2 linked regions of the Homo sapiens genome follow. The protein of the gene in region 1 interacts with the protein of each later gene in a pairwise test. Each region holds a gene or a part of one and is shown in the gene's direction. Other genes may lie near its edges.

Region 1 (3,829 bases):
ACTTGTTTTGTTACCTAACACATGATCTATCCTATGTGCACTTAATAAGAAAGTGTATTCTGCTGCTATTGACTGTATTTGTCCGTTAAGTTTAATTGGTCTTCAGTGTTGTTCAAGCACTCTGTTTTCTTTCTTATATAATCTTTGGATGTCCTATCCATTATTGAAAGTGGGGTATTGAAATCTCCTACTATTATTGTGTTGCTTTCTCTTTCTCTCTTCAATTCTATCAATCAATGTTTACTTCATATATTTGGTTGCTCTGGTATGGGATACATATATATTATAATTGCTATATCTTACTAGTTAATTCATCTTTTTTTCATTATAGTGTCCTTCTTTGTCTCTCATGATAGTTTTTGACTTAAAGCCTATTTAATCTGATATAAGTATTGCCACCCCTACTCTTCTTTTGACTGCTGTTTCTATGGGTTATCTTTTTCCATTTTTTCACTCTCAGCCTATGTGTGTCCTTAAATCTAAAGTGAGTCTCTTGTAGACAGCATATCGTTGGACCTGGTTTTTAATTTATCTTTTGATAGGGCAGTTTAAGCTATCTCCATTTAAAGTAATTACTGCACCAGGCATAGTGGCTCATACCTGTAATCCTAGCACTTTGGGAGGCTGAGGCGAGTGGATCACTTGAGGTCCCAACATGGCAAAACCTTGTCTCTACTAAAAATACAAAAAAAAAAAAAAATTAGTCGAGCACGGTGGTGCACACCTATAGTCTCAGCTGCTCAGAAGGCTGAGGCAGGAGAATTGCTTGAACCCAGGAGGCAGAGGTTAGCTGAGATCACACCACTGTGCACAAGCCTGGGTGACAGAGTGAGCCTCTGTTTAAAAAATAATAATAAATAAATAATAAAAATAAATAAATATTGATAGGAAATGATTACTTTTATCATTTTATTGTTTTCTGTATTTCTTGTAGCTCTTTTGTCCTTATCTTTTTCTCTTGCTGTCGTATTTGTGATTTAAAAAATTCTTTAGGGTCATATTTTGATTCCTTCCTCATTTTCTTTTGTGTGTCTCTTATAGGTATTTCTTTTCTGGTTGCTGTGGGGCTTATATAACACATTTTATAGTTATGATCATCTATTTTAAGATGATAACAACTTGACTTCAATCACATACAAAAGCTGAACTATTCCACCAGACTCCTTTATGTTATCATTGTAACAAATTTCATCTTTTTATTATGTATCCATTAACATAATTTTATAGTTTTTATACTTTTATCTTTTTACTTCTATATCAAAATTAAAAGCTGTTTATACAATATTCGTAACATTACATGTAATGTAATGTTATAGTACTATAATATGTATTTGTGTGTTTGTATATATGTATATATACTATAATATATATTTGTATGTGTGTGTATATATATATAGTACTATAATATGTACTCGTGTGTGTGTGTATATATATATACACTATAATATGTGTGTGTGTATATATATCTAGATATACACACACACACACACACACACACCTTTTCCAGTAAATTATATATTTTCATTTGCTTTCATGTTACTATCTGGTGTCCTTTCATTTCAACTTGAAGAACTTCCTTTAGCATTTCTTATAAGGCAGATTTCTTTGTAAGAGGACTATTATGTCTTGCCTTGGTTTTCTCATTTGCAAAATAGAATGATAGTGGAAATAAATACATCTTTGAAAAGTTTTATGTGACTTGTAAATATCTCTGCAAAATTTAGTTATCATAAGTATTACTTTACTTTATTACTAAATTACTAAATTATTACTATACTTTAGCATGTGTATTGAGGAAGTTTCCATTATCACATTATGAATTAGTGTAGATTGCAAGGCTTGTGTGTGTTGTGTATGTGTGTGTGTTGTGTGTGTGTGTGCACATGCCCACTAGGTGTAGTTCTGAGGTAGAGACAGAGACCGTTGCTTTAAAATTTGATTGTCCTTTGACCCATAAAATTATGACCCTGGCTGCTCTGGGAATGGTCATTTGCTTCTCCTGAGCGGGGGTGTTCAGTTGCTGATTTCCTAAACCAATTTCCTAAATGGGTAATTGTGTTCTGACTCATACAATTCCCCCTACATTTCCTGACTATTTCAGGTGACTATCTCTTCCTCTTTGCCCTTAATGGATAGGTAATGAAGTCACATGTTTCAAAGTCATTGCTGTGTTTCAGGCTGGGGTGGACTACTCTTACATAATGTCTCACTAGAGAGTCAGAATAAAGTTGGCACACGTGCTCTACCTCCACCTCAATTTTTAACCATGTTGAAAAGAAAGAAGTCTTAAAATGAGAGGTGGCTTTCAGGGGCTAAAGAGCCTCTGGTTGAAAGTGTTTAGTTAGTCATTAGTGTTTCAGATGCATTAAAAGCACAGGCTTTAGGGTTAGTTTGCTTCATTTTTTAAGCTGTGAACTTGGTTGTATGACTTTAACCTTTCGCAGTCTAGTTTCCTCATCTGTGAAAAAGGTGATAATAGTAATATTTATTTCACAGAGCTTTTATGAAGATCAAATGAGATAGTCTCTATAAAAATGCTGGCCGGGTGCAGTGGCTCACGCCTATAATCCCAGCACTTTGGGAGGCTGAGGCGGGCAGATCACCTGAGGTCAGGAGTTTGAGACCAGCCTGGCCAAAATGGTGAAACCCTGTCTCTACTAAAAATACAAAAAAATTAGCTGAGTGTGGTGGTGGGCGCCTGTAATTCCAGCTACTCGGGAGGCTGAAGCAGGAGAATCGCTTGAACCTGGGAGGTGGAGGTTGCAGTGAGCTGAGATCAGCGTGGGCAACAGAGAAAGACTCCATCTCAAACAACAACAATAAACTAGGCACGTTATGTGGCATATGTGTGGGGACCAATGCATGTTGGCATCAGTATGATTGTTTTCATTGATTCAGCCCTTCAGTAAGTCATTGCTGGCAACTCAAGTCTAGCTGGGTGCTGCAGAGAGACAACAAATAATACAGTAGAGCTTCATGCAGCATTTATGAGAATAGAGAGAAGAGAAATGTTAGTTGACACTAAGGCCAGGGCACATTTCCTAGAGGAAGTGGACCTTGGGGGAAAAGTGAAATTTCCCTGGAGAAAAGAAGCAGGAAAGAGAGGCATTTGCCTTCTAGAAGCACCATACAAGTAAATTTATGGGTGAGTTGGGTCTTTCATTCATATAGTCCACTTATAATTATTGAGTTCTCAATATGTGAGGGGTTCTGTGTTTGACTCAGGGAGCACAATGATGAGCAGAGCAAAAACAAAACAAAACAAAAACTATTCCTGCCCTATGTAACTCTCACTTTTCAGGCAAGATGGGTGTGAAACCAATAACAAATAGGAAAGGTATAGGACATCATTGGATGGTGTAGCCTTGAGACTGACTAGGTGTTAGGATGGGAGGTGTCCAGTGGGGCCTCTGTGGGTAACTGAGATTTAAACTGAGACCCATGTGGGAATGGGAGTGAGGTAAGGAGAGATAGAGAAGGCCCTGTGCCAGGAGAACCACAGTGTCTTCTGGGAACTGAACAAAGTCCACGGTGGCTGAGACATAGAGCACATGGGAAAGGTATAGAGAGGACAGTGGTGAGATAGCGTGGGCAAGACCACAGGGGGTCTTGGTGGTCATTCTAAGGATGCAGGCTTTTGTCCCACGTGCAATGGGAAGTCACTGAAGTGTTCTGTTTATGCACAGTAATATTTCAAGACTTATGTTTTGAAAAAAAAATCTGCTATGTGCAGCATGCATTAATGGGGATTAAAATGGAAGTGGAAAGATCAATAAGTAGTTGTGACAAGATGATAGTGGCTTGAATTGGGGTAGTGGCAAAAAATAAA
Region 2 (2,529 bases), on another chromosome or scaffold:
AGCAGCCGAGGCTGAGCAGAATTTAAATGTGGCTCTGGTAGAAAGGGAAGCCAAGAAAGTACAAGGGAGGAGAGGCTTTCTGCCGCCGCCTGATTCCTGCTGGTGTGGGGGAGGACGGATGGGCTCCTAAGGAACCTGAGGAGGCCCTTTCAGCATCCTCACCTCGCCCTTTAATTCGGATGGAGATGGTCGCACACTGAGGGTGGGAGATGTGTGTCTCGGGGCTCTGAGAGGAGGACAGAAGTCTGAAAGGACCAGGCTAATAATGACTGGAGCTCTTAGGAAGTCCCGAGCCCATCCCTGTCCTTCAGGGGACCTTCTCACTCACCCTAGCAGAGCTGTGAATCCAGGGGGTCTAGCCAAGCTGGGGGTCTGGGTAGGGAAGTCAGATCCCCAGGGCCCCGCAAGCATAATGAGAACTGTCTGGGAAAAAGGGGTACTTCCAATCTCGAGTGTCTGGCGATGGGAGGAACTGGGAACTTGGGAGTGTCTGAGCTTCAGGAAGGCAGGGTTAAGCCAAACACAGATGGCATTGTGTTGGGCAGTTTCTCTGTTCTTTCACTGAGAAAGACTTCCTCCTCACCTCACCTCTCTAAGGAACAGAATGGCATTGGTAAGAAGAGGATTGGATTTAGAAGAAATAAAAGCAGTTGTTCACACCTGTGCTGTGTGCTGAGGCCCTGCCCTCCCCATGATGTCATTCCTCAGAACAGCCTAAGTTGGAGGAATTACTAAACTCATCATGACATGAGGAGGCAGGTTTGGAGAGCCTAACTGCCCCAGAAAAATAATAATGAATAATAATCAGTATAATTTATTATGCACTTAAGGACCAGGCTTCATCTGTCCTATACCGCTGAATCCTCCCAGCAAACCAATGGGGTAGTTCAGTTATCTTCTTTTTACAGATGGGCAAACTGAGGCTCACAGAAGTTCAACAACATGCCCAAGGTCATAGCACTACTAAAGGGTGGCACTGGTATTTGAACTCAGCTGTGTCTGATTCCAGAGCCCAAGCTCTTAACAAATTCCACTGCCTGGAACCCCACCTCCTCACCCAGCACCTGCTTCACCCTGTGTTTTGGGGCTTGGACACGCATATTTTACAGATGGGGAAACTGGGCTCAGAGAAGGCAGGTCTGAGTTTTTGTGAGAAAGAACAGTGGTTAGCTTTCCCCCTCACCCTGCTGAATCCTGGGAGGAGCTGGGTGGGGGTCTCCCTCTTCACTTCCCTGATCTCAGAGCACAGTCGATGCGTGCCGCTCACTCCTGCCTCTTCTCTTGTGTTTCTTTGCAGCTTTCAGAAAACCAACGCCAAGATCCCTCCCAGCGTCCACATCGTCCTCTGGCAGGAGCTCCTGCCCCTCTGCCTCCCACCCTGCCCCCTACACCCCCTGCAGACCCATCTCCCTCCACCCCCTCCCACCCATCTCCTCCACGCAGAAGCCGAAGGTGAGCCCTTTCTGCACAAAACCAGCAATTGTAAATACTTTTTAAAAATGTACAAAACTTAAAAACAAAACACAGTTTTAGAAAAAGACAAAAAAAAAAAAGAGAGAGAGAGAGCGAGAGAGCGAGCGTGTGCAAGAGGTTGCGAGCGGGGCCCCGAGGTGTCCAGAGCCCCTGCAAGTATGCACTGAGAAATTTATCTACAGGTCGTTTGACAAAAATGAACAATATCCTATTTATTGTATATACTGTTTTATTATAAATCGTGGATTGTATATTGCATTCTGTAAACCTGCTGTGGTCCCGTGGTGTGCAAATTCGCATGGTGGGGGGGAGGGAGAAGAACCTCTTGCGGGAGCTTTTTTTTTCTTTCTTATTTTTCACTCTTTTGGGTTTTCTCTTCTGTTGTTGTTGTTGTTGTTTTCTGTTGGCAGGACACACCCAAAGATCCAAGTTTGTATTAAAAAGAAATGAAAAAAAGCAAAAAAAAAACAAAAAAAAAACAAAAAAAAAAAACCAACCTTGTGTCTTGTGAAAGGGGGAGTGAGGGTGGAGGGAATGGAAGGGACACCGCTGGGTTTTGTCACCAGCTACTGGTTCTCCAGAGGAGTTGAAATACCTACACGTGTTCCTGGCCACTGAGTTTTCCCTTCTGCCTGAGATCTGGGTTCCCCCTCATTTCACTCCAGGCCCTGCGTCTCCCCTGCCTCTGAGCTCCCCACTCTGCTGCCGAGGACATCCTGGCCCTTGATCATGCGTTCAGTCCCAGGTCCAGGGATTCTGCCTCTTGGACCTCCATTTTGTCCTAGGTCCTGGGTCTCCTCTGACTCTCCCTATATTCTATCCCAAGTCCAAGGTCTCCCCAAATGCTGGGTTTCCTCTCCCTGAGGAACCTCCATCATGGGGCTCCTGCTTCTGGACCCCCTTATTCCATCCAAGGTCCCAGGTCTCTGCCTCGAGTCCCTTTGTGTGTCCTGTGTATTCATGGCCTTTGGGCCTCACAGTTCTACTCTGGTTCAGGGACATCTCTCTTGGCGACACTCATTCCGTCCTAAGTCCCGGAACCCTCATGGGGCCTCC

Evidence for each region.
Region 2: the proteins of DOK5 (region 1) and AHDC1 interact in a two-hybrid assay, tested with the Homo sapiens proteins (one large-scale study listed by BioGRID and IntAct).

What each region holds. Positions count from the first base shown.
Region 1 is NC_000020.11:54,583,301-54,587,129, forward strand, and holds part of DOK5 (docking protein 5), read left to right. Parts: intron 1-3,829.
Region 2 is NC_000001.11:27,533,685-27,536,213, reverse strand, and holds the end of AHDC1 (transcription factor Gibbin), read left to right. Parts: intron 1-1,297; 3' UTR 1,298-1,969; downstream 1,970-2,529. UniProt on the Homo sapiens protein: Transcription factor required for the proper patterning of the epidermis, which plays a key role in early epithelial morphogenesis. Directly binds promoter and enhancer regions and acts by maintaining local enhancer-promoter chromatin architecture.